2 separate regions of the Homo sapiens genome follow, and region 2 is linked to region 1. Evidence: fine-mapped expression QTL. Tissue or cell type: whole blood. Region 1 holds a variant in brackets; the other region holds the start of a gene. All regions are shown on one strand. Distances are from middle to middle.

The links. PIP is the estimated chance that this variant, and not a neighbour inherited with it, causes the effect.
Region 2: WDTC1 starts here. The variant in region 1 is fine-mapped to the expression of WDTC1 in whole blood (TOPMed, PIP above 0.99).

What each region holds. Positions count from the first base shown.
Region 1 is chr1:27,337,372-27,345,203 of GRCh38, reverse strand. SYTL1 (synaptotagmin like 1) reads right to left here and starts at 3,182. Exons shown (of 15, transcript NM_001193308.2): 1 at 3,054-3,182. RefSeq lists enhancers at 1,842-1,931, 1,930-2,547, 2,722-2,771, 3,302-3,561. The variant T/C (reference allele first, on the strand shown) is at 2,947.
Region 2 is chr1:27,231,339-27,239,170 of GRCh38, reverse strand. WDTC1 (WD and tetratricopeptide repeats 1) reads right to left here and starts at 4,539. Exons shown (of 16, transcript NM_001276252.2): 1 at 4,220-4,539. WDTC1-DT (WDTC1 divergent transcript) reads left to right here and starts at 4,742. Exons shown (of 3, transcript XR_947117.2): 1 at 4,742-4,909; 2 at 5,569-5,726. RefSeq lists silencers at 3,860-3,909, 4,070-4,119, 4,310-4,459, 4,660-4,719.

The DNA.
Region 1 (7,832 bases):
TATGGGTAGGGTGCCACCCCAGGATGGCTGAGCTCAAGGTGGGGTGAGAGACACTCATGCACACATGCATACACTAGCCCTTGAACACACTTGGAGACACAGTGGAAGAAGCAAGAGACACACATGCACACACCCTGAGGTAGGGCCACACAGGACTGCAGCGATGGAACACACAGACACATGTGCACACGCGGGTCCATGTAGGCATAGATATGGTCGCACATGCACACAGACACCTGCATAAAGACAGGCGCATGCACAGCTGTTCCCCCAGAAAGGGCCCTCTGCAGACACAGACCCGGACCCATGCCCACGAGAGACATGCACACACATTCTTTTTTTTTTTTTTTTTTTTTTTTTTGAGGAGTCTTGCTTTGTTGCCCAGGCTGGAGTACAGTGGCACGATCTCATCTCACTGCAACCACTGCCTGACGGGTTCAAACCTCCTGCCTCAGCCTCCTGAGTAGCTGGGATTATAGGCACGCACCATCACGCCCAGCTAATTTTTGTATTTTTAGTAGAGACGGGGTTTGACCATGTTGGCCAGGCTGGCCTCGAACTCCTGACCTCATGATCTGCCAGCCTCAGCCTCCCAAAGTGCTGGGAGTACAGGCGTGAGCCACCACGCCCGGCCCTACACATGTTCTTAAATCTGCACACAGTGGCCAGGCGCGGTGGCTCACGCCTGTAATCCCAACACTTTGGGAGGCCAAGGTGGGCCGATCACCTGAGGTCAGGAGTTCAAGACCAGCCTGGCCAACATGGTGAAACCCCCTTCTCTACTAAAAATACAAAAATTATGGCCAGATACAGTGGCTCACCCCTGTAATCCCAGCACTTTGGGATGCCAAGGCGGGCAGATCACCTGAGGTCAGGAGTTTGAGACCAGCCTGACCAACACGGAGAAACCCCGTCTCTACTAAAAATACAAAATTAGCCGGGCATGGTGGTGCATGCCTTTAATCCCAGCTACTCGGGAGGCTGAGGTGGGAGAATTGCTTGAAACTGGGAGGCAGAGGTTATGGTAAACCGAGATCACACCATTGCACTCCAGCCTGGGCAAAAAGAGTGAAACTCCTCCAAAAAAAATGAAAAGAACAGAACAATTAGCTGGGCATGGTGGTACATGCCTGTAATTCCAGCTACTTGGGAAGCGAGGCAGGAGAATCACTTGAACCCAAGAGAAGGAGGTTGCAGTGAGCTGAGATGGCGCCACTGCACTCCAGCCTGGGCAAGAGTGAGACTCCGTCTCAAAACAAAAACTAACAAAAAAACCTGCACACAGCATATGCACACCAATGGGGATAGGCCCACCCGGATGGGTTCACCTAGACAAGAACAAGTCTGGGGACAAATATGTCCCTCGATAAAGATGTACATAAAAATCATACAGACTTTGGCACACATACATTGCCCGGCTAACTGGGTTGTGAGCTCCTTGGAGGCAGGGAGAGGGAGTCACCCTCAAAGCCATTACTTTGCACACAACAGATGGTTGGTAAAAGTTTGATTAATTAAATGCAGAAATATGCCTGCACACACATGGGAATGCACACATACAACCACCCACCTAGACAGACAGATACACACACACACACACGTACACACACACACATCTGCTCACTCCCCCGCACCAGGAACCTCACAGCCTGGGTCCCCTCCTGCCACCACCTCCACCCTGCCCTGGCCCACTTGGCCTTCCTGTCTGAGGCAACCTCCTCCTCAGCCCACACCCCCAACTTCCTCTCCTGAGGTAACTGCCGCACCCACTCCCACGGAGGCCTCCAACCCAGGGATGCCCCCGCCGCCAGCCCTGCCCTGTTGCCTGGAGCCACAGGGCCCCTCTGTTCTGGCCACACAGTTCTCCCCAGACCAGGCTGGGGTCCCGGCGGTGGAGGCCTAGGCTAGCGCAGCAGCCCATGCTCAGGTACCACAGTGACTCCGGAAAGAAAGCATTTGCCCAGCGCTGAGGGGCATGTAGACGTGGCAAGGGGCCCATGACTTGGTCAGGGCTGTGTCCTGAGCCCACTGGGCGGCCTCTCCTCTCTTCCCCGCCCCTTCCATTGCCACGGCTCCAGGTGGGGCTGAGACCGGCGGAGGCAGCTTGGCGGGCAGGTCCTGGCTTGTGTCCGCCGCCTGCTATGCTCTGTCCCCTCCCAGCTGAGTCAGTGGCCGAGCCCCAGCGATCCCTCTTGACACCCTCAGGAGCAGAAGGCCTCAGCACGGCTGCACGGTGTGCATTCACTCTGTGGATACCTGTGTGCTCCACAACAGCAGTTTCCCTGGACTTCTGTGGCCAACGTGTGAGCCCACGTTCGGCCTCCCCTGTGGATTGGGGTGTGAGCCCACGTTCGGCCTCCCCTGTGGATTGGGGTGTGAGCCCACGTCCCTCTCTGTGCCCTGTTGTGTGGCTGTGTGGGTCCGAGTCTGGTGGGCATGTCTGCGTTGCGTGAGTCTGTGAGCTGTGTAGTTGCTGTGTGTCTTTGTGTCCTGTTGCAGTGTGATGCTGCATGGTGACTATATTGTCTGTGTGGTGTGTTCAGTGACTTTCTAGGTGACAGCGCCGTGTGGGGTGTGTACAGTATGCATTGTGCATTTCCTCCTGTGCTGTATGTGTGACTGGGCTGTGTGCTGTGGGGTGTCCCCTGGTGCCTTGGGGGCCACCAGGTGTGTGTGTCTGAGTGTGGATGGAGGCCGGGGGGACGTTCGGCAGAACTGAGCCTATTTCTGTCCTTCAGGCCTGCCTGAGCTGGGCCATGGGCATCAGCCCAGCGTCCTCAGCAGTGCCCCCTCCCTGAAGTCCCCTCTCCTACCAACCAGAGGCAGAATCTCCTACCAGAGTTAGGTAGGAGTTTGGTCTTCTCTGCTGTTTTGACACGGTGGGACAGACCCATTGGTCAAGAGGAGGGTCTGTCCATCTGTCCAGCTGTTCCAGTTCCAGACATG[T/C]GCCCACCTCCCCCAACCCCAAGGTGCTGGAGGGTGCTCAGGATACCAGGTGGCAGTGCCTGCGTCTCTGGACCCTGGCAGGGGACCCTGGCACCGACACGTGTTACCTGTAGGGGTCCAGTATGGGAGGACACCTTCGCAGGTGGCTCCAGCTCCCCTGGCAGCCGAGTTTCAGGGACCGGGAGAAGAGCCGTGAGGGAAGAAGGCTGACTCAACAGGCAGCCCAGCCAGCAGCTGCCCCACACGGAGGAGGAGGAAACACCTCGGCAGGGCCTGATGCAAAACCGGGCCTGGACTCCCAGCGCCCGGGGGTGCGCCCCCGCAGCCGACTGGAGAGGCCCAGCTTGGCCCCAGCTCCACTGAGCAGGCCCTCTAGAACGGGTAGCAGCCCCACCTTGCCCACAACGGGGCTGATAGGAACTCGCTTTGAAAGCAAGTTAGAAACCTTTCTTTTCCAGCCCCAAGGGGAATGGCAGGATGGCAGACTTTGCAGTTAGACCACCCTGTGCAGAGTCCCTGCTCTGCCAGTGGGTGTGTGATGTGACCTTAAGCAGGTCTCTTCCATTTCTTCTGATGCAAACTGTGGGTAGCAGAGTGCAAGGAGCCTATACTAAGGGAAGTGAAAGTGCCCGGTGCGAGCTGGCATAGTCGGGGTGAGGTGTCCCCACTCCAGCATAGCCTAATGCCCACGGCCATCTCAGCAGCTGCTGCCCTCTATATCCACATGCACTTCTGGGACATGCTGGCAGAGCAGCCCTCTCTGTCCCCTCTGCTGTCCTGAGCCCCATCTGTTTGAGGAGGCCTGAACTCTTCTAGTGCCAAGGTGAGGGTCCCACACCCTCTGTCTATGTGGAGCCCCCCTGAACTCACCCCATTCTACACCTAGATTCTGCCCACCCTGAGATTAGAAGGTTTGGGCCCTAGATTACATTGGCTTCAGGACCATGAACCTCCTGGGTTGTCTTGGGCACAAGAGGCCACACCAAAGCTTTCTGACTCCCCCCAAGTCCACTTCACTTCCCATGGCCTGCCCTGGCCCAACCCCCTCCCCTGAACCTAGGGCCATGGATTAAAGATTAGTGGGCTCCTCATAGACCCCTGGGAGAGGCAGGACAAGGGGTGGATTCTAAACAAAACCAGTCTGGGCACAGTGACTCATGCCTGTAATCCCAGTACTTTAAGAGGTCGAGGTGGGCGGATCACTCTAGGACAGGAGTTTGAGACCAGTCTGGCTAATATAGTGAAACCCCGTCTCTACTCAAAATACAAAAATTAACCGGGCATGGTGGCAGGTGCTTGCAGTCCCAGTTACTCGGGAGGCCGAGGCAGGAGAATCGCTTGAACCCAGGAGGCGGAGGTTGCAGTGAGCCGAGATCGCACCACTGCACTCCAGCCTGGGCAACACAGCGAGACTCCGTCTCAGAAAAGCAAACAAGGCTGGGCGTGGTAGCTTACACCTGTAATCCCAGCACTTTGGGAGGCCGAGACGGGTGGATCACGAGGTCAGGAGATCAAGACCATCCTGGCTAACACGGTGAAAACCCATCTCTACTAAAAATACAAAAAAAATTAGCTGGGCGTGGTGGCGGCTGCCTGTAGTCCCAGCTATTTCCCGAGTAGCTGAGGCAGGAGAATGGCATGAACCTGGGAGGTGGAGCTTGCAGTGAGCCGAGATCGCACCACTGCACTCCAGCCTGGGCGACAGAGCGAGACTCCGTCACAAAAAAAAAAAGAAAAGAAAAGAAAAGAAAACTAAACACCCACTCTTCCTTCCTGTAATCAGAACCGACTCCCACCACCACTGAGAGACAGAGGACCCTCCTCCACCTCAGAACCACAGTGGAGGCTTCCCTACTTATTTTTTGCAAATTAATCTTATTTTTCTCATCTGTTAAATGGGGGTAATCTCTCCTTAGAGGGTTTTCACTAAAATTCAGTGAGATCCTTGCAGACTTTTTTTTTTCTTTTTTTTAGATGGAGTCTTGCTCTGTCGCCCAGGCTGGCTTGGCTCACTGCAGCCTCCGCCTCCTGGGTTCAAGTGATTCTCATGCCTCAGCCTCCCGAGTAGCTGGCACTACAGGCGCCCGCCACCACGCCTGGCTAATTTTTGTATTTTGAGTAGAGATGGGGTTTCACCATGTTGGACAGGCTGGGCTCGAACTCCTGGTCTCATGTGATCTGCCTGCCTCAGCCTCCCAAAGTGCTAGGACTACAGGCGTGAGCCACCTTGCCCAGACCCCAGTACTCTTGATTAATGCATTTATGCACCCACACATGCAATACCCATGGAGCAGCTGCTGTGGGACCATTACTGTGATGCTGCCTCCTTCATTAAGGCCCTCAAAATGGAAGGAGAGTGGCCAAGAACATCCACACCCCTTCCTGCCATCCTGGTCCTGGCGCCCCCAAGGATGTTTCTCTGCCCTCCTCTCACCTCCTTAGCAGCTCTTCCTCCTGGAAGGCATGAAACTTCATTATCTGGTCTTCGGGTTTCTAAATTTCCCTTCCTTTCTCTGCTCTCCTGTCCTTCCTATAGCTGTGACTCCCTGACGCTGATACTTCCAGCCATCTCTCCTGCTGTGTCTCAACCTGCATTCCTCTGGCCTCTTCCCCACTTGAAACCTATTTCCAAGTTTCCACCTCTGTAACCAGCCCCCATCATCCTGGCCCCTGGCCTCCTGCTGCTTCCTGCCACCTCCAGATGCTGTCCACACTTCACTCCAGGTGCCCTCCCATCTGTGTGTCTCTGCTGTCCTCCCCCTGCCCAGGTCTCAGTCCCCGCTCAGCCTCTTCTGGAAGCCTCCTCTTCTCCTGCCTCCTTGCGGCCACACAAGGCCACTCTGGCCCTATGTTGCACAACTTTCAAACGTACTTTTCTTTGTCATCCTCTGGTTTGGAAGGTGCCAGCAGACAGCCAGGCCATCCCTCGGGCCCATTCATACATTTCTAAACCAGTCCAGTCCCCTTTAGACACGTCCTGAGATGGAAGTCTCACCACTTCCCAGGACAGCCTGGCCCTCAGCCTGACCCTCAGGATTGCTGCCCTTACTCTGGCTTTCTCCCCTTCGTCACCTATACCCGTAGAGCCTTAGCTGTGGGCTATTTCCTGTCCTTCAACACCCCTGGGCCTTCTGTGCTCCCTGTGGGAATACTTTTCCCCAGCTCCAGGACTAGCTCAGCCTCCTCCAGAGTTCAGTGCCCCTGCGCTGCAGCCAGTCTCTAGGCAACATCCCTCTGTTAAGAGGGACATTAAGAGGCAGGGTCCTAGAGGCCAGCAGATCTGGGTTAAAATCTGGCTCTGCCGCATGGTTCCCTGTGGCCTGGGATCAATGACAATCCCTGTAAGCCTCACTCTCTTCCTTTATGAAGTGGGGACAATAGCCATCTCACAGGCCTGCTGCTGTCAGGAGAGCTTGTTTTTCACCTCCGCGGCCATTCTCCTTTCGCATCACAGCACCTCTCATTTCCACTCCTGTGCTCCAGTGAGGCCATCGCACAGGGTGGCTCTGAGTGGGGGCTCTGGAGCCCAGCTGCTGGGTTTGAACCATAGTTCCACTCTTCCTACCTCTGTGACCCGGAGCAAATCACTACTTCTCTGCTTACTTCTTCATCTGTAAAATGGGATGATGGCACTTACCTTGTTGCAGGGCTGTTGTGAGGCTAAGATGGTATTTTATTACAAGGCCTAGCACAGAGTAAGCACTCGCTAACTGTTGGTGACTTTTTTTTTTTTTTTTTAAGAGACGGGGCCTTAGGCCGGGCATGGTGACTCACACCTGCAATCCCAGCACTTTGGGAGGCCGAGGCAGGCGGATCATGAGGTCAGGAGTTTGAGACCAGCCTGGCCAACATGACGAAACCTTGTCTCTACTGAAAATACAAAAATTAGCCGGGCATGGTGGCAGGCGCCTGTAATCCCAGCTACTCGGGAGGCTGAGGCAGGAGAATCGCTTGAATCCGGGAGGCGGAGGTTGCAGTGAGCTGAGATCATGCCATTGCATTCCAGCCTGGGTGACAAGAGCAAGACTCCATCTCAAAAAAAAAAAAAAAAACAAAACAAAAAAAAAGAGAGAGAGAGAGGGAGAGACGGGGTCTTGCTCTGTCACCCTTGACCTCCTGAGCTCAAGCTATCCTCCCATTTCAGTCTCTTGAGTAGTAGCTGGGGCTGCAGGTACGCACCATCATGCCCAGCTAATTTTATTTTTTAATTTTTTGTAGAGATGGGGTCTCACTTTGTTGCCGAGGCTGGTCTCAAACTCTTGGGCTCCCTCCCTCCTCCAGCCTTGGCCTCCCAAAGTGCTGGACACTGTGGCTGACCCTGTTGGTGACTTCTATGGCACAATTTTATGTCCTGTTTCCCCCAGGCAAATTTTAAATTCTGCTAGGCTAACGCAGGCCTTAAGCCTTTTTTCTATCTATTCTACTGTGGCTGTCTTTGGTTTATTTTTTAATTTTTATTTTTGAGACGGAGGCTTGCTCTGTCACCCAGGCTGGAGTGCAGTGGCGCGATCTCGGCTCACTGCAAGCTCCGCCTCCCGGGTTCATGCCACTCTCCTGCCTCAGCCTCCCAAGTAGCTGGGACTACAGGTGCACGCCACCATGCCCGGCTAAGTGCTTGTATTTTTATTAGAGACGGGGTTTCACCGTGTTAGCCAGGATGGTCTCGCTCTCCTGACCTCGTGATCCGCCTGCCTCAGCCTCCCAAAGTGCTGGGATTACAGGCGTGAGCCACCGCAACCGGCCTGTCTTCAGTATTGAATTTGTCCCCCCTCAACCAACTCTCGGATGGACCCAATATGCAAAACAGGTTTTTGAAAATGGAATTGCTGGGGCCAGGCGTAATGGCTTATGCCTGTAATCCCAGCACTTTGGGAGGCTGAGGCGGG
Region 2 (7,832 bases), 110 kb after region 1:
GGACTTTGGGAGGCTGAGGTAGGCAGACTGCTTGAGCCCAGGAGTTTGAGACCAGCCTGAGCAACATAGTGAAACCCCATCTCTATGAAAAAATTAAAAAATTAGCCAGGCGTGATGGCACACACCTGTCTTCCCATCTACCCTGTCTCATAAAAAAAAAAAAAAAAAAAAAGCCAGGAGCGGTGGCTCATGCCTGTAATCCTAGCACTTTGGGAGACCGAGGCAGGTGGAACTCAGGAGTTCAAGACCAGCCTGGGCAACATGGCAAAACCCTGTCTCTAATAAAAATACAAAAAAATTAGCCGGGGCTGGGCGCGGTGTCTCACACCTGTAATCCCAGCACTTTGGGAGGCTGAGGCGGGCGGATCACCTGAGGTCAGGAGTTCAAGACCAGTCTGGTCAACATGGTGAAACCCCATCTCTACAAAAATACAAAAATTAGATGGGCGTGGTGGTACATGCCTATAATTCCAGCTACTTGGGAGGCTGAGGCATGAGAATCACTTGAACCTGGGAGGCAGAGGTTGCAGTGAGCCGAGATCATGCCACTGCACTCCAGCCTGGAAGATGAAGTGAGGCATGGGAATCACTTGAACCTGGGAGGCAGAGGTTGCAGTGAGCTGAGATCATGCCACTGCACTCCAGCCTGGATGACGAAGTAAGACTCTGTCTCAAAGAAAAAAAAAAGATGTGGCAAACTCTCTGCTTGAATATCTGCAATGATGGGTAACTCACTCCCTCACAAGGCAGCCCATTTTGTTTTTAGAAAGCTACATTATCTCCTATCAAACCAAAGTCTACCTTCTTGGAAATTATGTCATTTAATCCTGAGATGCCTTCTAGAATCACAGAGAACATCCAGTTTCCTTTCCCCATGACAATCTTCAAGTATTTGAATGAGGTATCATGTTCCCCCAGGCTCTTAGCCTTGGTCTTTTCAGTTCTTCTTCATGTGTCACAGTCCCAGAGGCAATTCAATATCACAGAGCAGAGAGACCTGGGTTTGAATTCCAGTCCTTCCTCTTACTTGCTGTGTGACCTTAAGCAAATAACTTAATTTCTCTGAATCTGTTTCTTCATAGGTATAATAGGGAAAATGATTCTCACCTCACAGGACAGTCATGAAGGTTACACTGGATAAAGTAAAAATACTAGCTAGCACTGAGCTCAAGATATACCAGGCCCTGAATAAAATGTCAGTCACTTTTTAGGACATATCCCAACTGGCAAATACCTCTCAAAGTAAATTAACTACACCAAGGAACTGGCTTCTTTCTTTTTTTTCTTTTCTTTTCTTTTTTTTTTTTTTGAGATGGAGTTTCACTTTTGTTGCCCAGGCTGGAGTGCAATGGCACGATCACAGCTCACCGCAACCTCCACCTCCTGGGTTCAAGCGATTTTCCTGCCTTAGTAGGAAAATCCCTCCTGAGTAGCTGGGACTACAGGCGCGTGCCACCATGCCCGGCTAATTTTTTTTGTATTTTTAGTAGAGATGGGGTTTCACCGTGTTAGCCAGGATGGTCTCAATCTCCTGACCTCGTGATCTGCCCACCTCAGCCTCCCAAAGTGCTGGGATTACAGGCGTGAGCCACCGCGCTCAGCCAGGAACTGGTTTCTAATAGCAACTGCCAGAACTTTGGCTTTTCAAGAGATGACAGCTAAGAAAGTACAACCTAAGGGTTTTGTGGGCCCAGCAATCTGCAATGGCAGCCTAAAGATACAGTGGAGCATCTGGAAAGGTGAGGTGGAAAGAAGAAAGGAAACAGAATAGATAACTAAACCAGTGACCCAAAGAAAACACAAGTATCACCAGATTACATGTTCTGTTTGACTTCCTCTCTGAGACTCAGAACTGCACATGTCAGCAACATTCCTTAATTTTTAAAAAGAGAGAAGAGAGTGGTCACGGAGGCCGTGTCTGTAGTCCCAGCTACTAGGAAGGCAGAGGTACGAGAATCCCTTGAGCTCAGGAGTTTGAGACCAGCCCAGGCAACAGAGTGAGACCCCATCTCAAAAAAATAAAAATAAAAGGAGAGGCCAGGTGCGGTGGCTCACACCTGTAATCCCAGCACTCTGGGAGGCCGAGGTCGGTGGATCACGAGGTCAGGAGTTCAAGACCAGCCTGGCCAAGATGGTGAAACCCCATCTCTACTAAAAATACAAAAATTAGCTGGGCATGGTGGCAGGCACCTGCAATCCCAGCTACTTGGGAGGCTGAAGCAGAGAATTGCTTGAACCCAGGAGGCTGAGGTTGCAGTGAGCTGAGATCGCGCCACTGCACTTCAGCCTGGGCAACAGAGCAAGACTCCATCTCAAAAAATAAATAAATAAATACATACATACATAAAGGAGAAAAAAATAAAAATAATTAAAGACCAAGTCATAGTCTAGATCTTCCTTAGCAGTTGGCCCAAGATCCACAAATGTTTGGCAGTGGGCTTCAAGATTTTCAGTTGTCTTTCCAGATCCTAAAGTCTAGGTGTGCAAAAACACCCTACATAAGATGCCCAATGAGTCAATACTGAACTCCTCCCGGCTAAAAAAAACTGTCAATTGTATGAAACTGGTAAATAGTTGTTAACATCATCATCATAATATTTACACGTGTTCTCTCTTTCCCTCGTGACCCTCAATGAAGGTGTCCCAGGCAGAAATATGGGCTACTGCTCAATTATTCGGCAGAGTTGATCCAAAAGCACTGTTCCTTCAAATTGAGATAAGACTCGAACAGAAGTGCTCCCATATAGGTCAAAAAAGGAAAGGAGAGCAGGACTCCAGCCTTAAAGCAGCATGATCACAAACTATGACGGAAAAGGTCATTTCCCACCTGCCAACGAAATACAACAACCTACAATGAAGAAACCTCAGTAAGTCTCAGACTTGGCCCAAAGGAGCCCAACTAGTTACTCCCTGGTCTGTTACAGAGGATCTGGCTATTACACTCAACAGCAAAAATTCAATTCAATCCCGCTAAAGATATAAGAATCACAAGGAAGAATAAGCCAGAACTCAAGACAGAAATAGCATTAAGTAGTTCCTTCAGTACAGTGAGCAGAAGCTGGCCACTCAACGACTCTAAAAGACACAGAAAAGCTTAGTAGGGACCACTGGGCATACCGGTGTCCTAGGTGGGGATTTCGTAACGTCTTTGAGTCAGAAGCTGCCCTCAAAATAGTTTCTTCTCAAAACGGTTTCAGGCTTTGTTAGAAAGGGAAGACTTCACTGCCACTTTACCCAGATCATCTACCCCATCCTTGGAATGAATGGGGAAGCTTCAGCCACCCTACCAGGCTCCTAAAATCACCAACTTGAGAGAAAAACTATAACGTTGCTCTACCAGTACTTCAGGAGGTTAAAGAAAGTCACAGAAGAAAAGAACTCTGGGGAAAACAGTCAAATTCGGCTATTAAGACATTAGTTACAGGCCCCTGTACCTCTCCTCTAGAAACCCTGGGAGTACACCCGCAGAGGAGAGAGAGCCCAAGCCACCAAGCAAAGTCAACCAATCTGGCAAAGGGGCGTCCCACTGCGGCTTTCAGTCCAAGAAGTGGATCCTGCTGGTTCGCAGTCTCTCTTCTATCTCCTCACTTCCTATTTACCCTTTGAAGTGGGTACTGAATAGCCCGTTCCCAAGCAGAGGCCCTTTGTATACGGGGTGCTACAGTCGCCTGGTGGAAACACCTTGGCAGAGTTGTTTGGTGCCAGGATGGGCCACTGAAGGCATCTGCTGTGGACACACACACACACACACACACACACACACACACACACACACAGAAAGAGAGAGAGAAAAACAGAAAGAGAGAGAGCGAGAAGCTAAGAGGGCAGGTCAGGTCGGCGTTGCCCTCCCAGCACTTACACCTGCCCCTTCTTCCTGACTCCGGCGCCAGATCAGATGTCAAACAAAAACTCCGCAAAAAAGTCCCATGATGGAATGACTTCCACCTCTCCCTCCGCAGAGCCTCCCCGGACTCCCACAGCCTCCCCCCGCGTCCCGACCAAACCCTCCGCCCCCACCCCGCCCCCGGACCACTCTGCCCTCCGCCCCGGCGAGGCCTGGCCCCTCTCGGGACACCCGGGGCCCCGAGGCGGGTAGGCTCAGGCCCCCAGGCCGGCAGGGCTGGAGCCGGCCCAGAGCGGGCGGCCCGTTCACCGGGGCTGCGGGAGCCGGTCCCCGCCTCGGCGCCCGCGGAGGGCAGGGGGCGGCGGTGACCCGTACCTGTCAGGTCTCTTCCCCCGACCGGCAGCGGCGCAACTTCAGGAGCCCATGTCCGTCCGGGGGGGGCGGCCCCTCTCCCGGGAAGGGGGGCGCGGATCCCGGGGAGGGGGCTGGGGGGCTCGAGCAGTTCTAGCCCCTTCCCATGCTCCCCGCCCGGCGCCTGGCCGGGGCCGGACAGCGCCTCCGCCCGCCCCTGCGCACCGCCTCACACCCGCGCTCACACACACTCACACTCCCTCGCGCGCTCTCACACACGCACTCCCCTCCCTCCTCCTCCTCTGTTTATCTCCTCCAGCTGTCTGGGGACCCAGGAGAAGCCCAGCAACGCGCCTGCGCCACGCAGTCTCCGCCTCCGCCCTGCGCCTCGCAGCCGGCGGGTACGCTACGAAGACTGCGCCCGGCCGCTTCCAGAATGGCTAGCCGGGCCCCCCCACTTACCCCCCCGCGCCCGGTCAACGTCTGCTGCCGGCGGCGCCCACTAACCTGCTAGTGGGGGAGCCCCGCACCGCCGTGGCCAATGGGCTTCGCCGCTTGCGGGACCGGCAGCCAGTGGGCGGGCGGGAAAGCTGGGCTAAGCCCTGGGGCACCCTGGGAGTCGTAGTTTTTCGCCGTCGAGGAGTTCCTGCAGAGCGGGCTCACCCCGCCCGGTTGCCATTAGTTACCCGGACGCACCTCCCACCCCACCACCGGGTAAAACGCTCCTCACACCGCTTCTGGGACACCCGCCCACACGCTCGCCCACTGAACCCCAGGTCCCCTCACAGCCCCTTAAGAGCTCCTAAGACTTCCTCTCAGCCCCCGAATTCTGGGACCTCTCAGGCTAGGGCCCCGGGGGGCTCCTCAGCCCACTCCTTCCTGCTCTGGGGGGCTGCTGAAGTGGCACAGTCCTCACTGACGTCTCCTGGGCCTTAAGGAAGAGAATGAAAGAGAATCGGGCCTACGCTGAGTAGCCTGGAGAGGAGTCAGCCACACACACTCTGGGTGCCCTCGGGGTGATGGGAGCGACTAGGTCCATCTGACCCTAGCGGAGTCACTGCTGCTCCCACCTCTGAGGAAGAGACGCAGTTCCAGCCTTGTGGAGTCCCGGGTCTGATGGAGGAGAGACCCTCCTCTTTATTAAGGAAGTTCCCAAGGTGACAAGGGTGGCACTAAGCCTATCTTCTTAAGGCAGAGACCAGGCCCCACCCGTGAAACCTCAAGTCAGAAAGGGAAGACGTGTCACCTTCTGACAAAGGAAACTTGTCACCCATAGGGTGCCATTTGTCAGATACTAACAATAATTCACTTTTATTCGCACTGGATTGGGTACAGTCTCTTAGCTAGGTACTATTGCTGTCTGTGTTTTGCAGAAAAGGAAAGCTGAAGCAGAAAGGCTAAAAGCAACTTGCCCCCGGGGTCCTGATAAGTTGGCAAATTGGGAATTAGACCCAGATCTGCCTGACACCAGAGTCTGAGCCTTTTAACACTGCCTGTCTTTCCTGTGAAAACCAGACAGCACCCGCTCTCAGTAAGGACTGAATATATGTATTTGGCATTTATAGTGTTTATCACTCCATGTGTCGCTTGTTTTTTTTTTTTTTTTTTTTTTTTTTTTCCAATTCTGCTCACATCATGAGTACGAATTTGTCTGTGAATACCTGAATACTCCCAGAGACAAAGGTAGTATTCTAATTGCTGGTGATTTCTCCGCAAGGGAGATTTCTCCCCATTTAGAGGAGTAAGAACCTATCCTTGTGAAACCGCTCACAAAGCCTTTTATGCCTTTCTCCTAAAAATATTGTGGGTCATTCCCCCTGAACTCTCCACCACAGCTGTTCTACTGAATATAAAAAATCATAGACTTTGGGACTAGAAGAAAGCTTTGAGATCATCTATCTGCAGCTCCCCAGGTTCAGGCTGCAACCTTGGTTAGGGTCATTGGGTTAATTAAACTGAATAATATCTAACATTTATTGAATACTTACCATGGGAGATAAGTGCTACTAGTGAATTAAGAAATACTCCCGGGCTGGGCGCGGTGGCTCACGCCTGTAATCCCAGCACTTTGGGAGGCAGAGGCGGGCGGATCACGAGATCAGGAGATAGAGACCACCTGGCTAACACGGTGAAACCCCATCTCTACTAAAAATACAAAAAAATTAGCCGGGCGTGATGGTGGGCGCCTGTAGAACCAGCTACTCGGGAGGCTGAGGCAGGAGAATGGCGTGAACCCGGGAGGCGCAGCTTGCAGTGAGCCGAGATCGCGTCACTGCACTCCAGCCTGGGCGACAGAGCGAGACTCCGTCTCAAAAAAAAAAAAAAAAAAAAAAGTAAAAGAAAAAGAAACACTCCCGGCCGGGCGCGGTGGCTCACGCCTGTAATACCAGCACTTTGGGAGGCCAAGGGCGGGTGGATCGCCTGAGGTCGGGAGTTCAAGACCAGCCTGGCCAGCATGGTGAAACCCCGTCTCTACTAAAAATACAAAAATTAGCCGGGCGTGGTGGCGCGTGCCTGTAATCCCAGCTACTCAGGAGGCTGAGGCAGGAGAATCACTTGAATCCTAGAGGCGAAGGTTGCAGTGAGCCGAGGTCGTGCCACTGCACTCCAGCCTGAGCAACAGAGAGAGACTCCATCTCAAAAAAAGAAAAAAGAAAAGAAAGAAAGACAGACTCCCACAATCACATAGCTAGGAAGTGGTACAGTTGGGATTAAAGCCTACACTATTCAAATCCAGAACCCTCATTTTTAAATCATTTTAGCATCCTGTGTTTTTGGCAGAGACCACCCCCCCCCCCACTTTTTTCTTCTTTTTTTGAGACAGAGTCTTGCTCTGTCGCCCAGGCTGGAGTGCAGTGGGGCAATCTCTGCTCACTGCAAGCTCTGCCTCCCGGGTTCACACCATTCTCCTGCCTAAGCCTCCCGAGTAGCTGGGACTACAGGCGCCCGCCACCAGTTTGTCATTTCATTTAGTACAGACGGGGTTTCACCGTACTAGCCAGGATAGTCTCGATCTCCTGACCTCGTGATCCACCCGCCTCTGCCTCCCAAAGTGCTGTCACTACAGACATGAGCCACCGCGCCCGGCCAGAGAACCCCCATTTTAAAGTCTTGTTTAATGCTGGCAAGGTCACAGAGGATCTTAGATATACTGATAGAGAAGAGTGGGTGATGTTTCTGTGACTCCTAGCACAGTCTATGGCACATAGCAGAAACTCAGTAAATATTTGTTGTCAGAATGAACTTTCGTTGGTAGAGACTGATGACAGGAAGAAGACTATTTCTTTTGAGACGGAGTCTTGCTCTGTCGCCCAGGCTGGAGTATAGTGGTGCAATCTCGGCTCACTGCAACCTCTGCCTCCTGGGTTCAAGCGATTCTCCTGTCTCAGCCTCCCGAGTAGCTGGGACTACAGGCACATGCCACGACGCCCGGCTAATTTTTGTATTTTTAGTAGAGATAGGGTTTCACCATAATTGGTCAGGCTGGTCTCAAACTCCTGATCGCAGGTGATCCACCTGCCTTGGCCTCTCAAAGTGCTGGGATTAGAGGCATGAGCCACCTCGCCCCACCAGGAAGAAGACTATTAACAACTGCAGTTACTATTTATTATTTTCTAATAGATACCACTCGTACTCT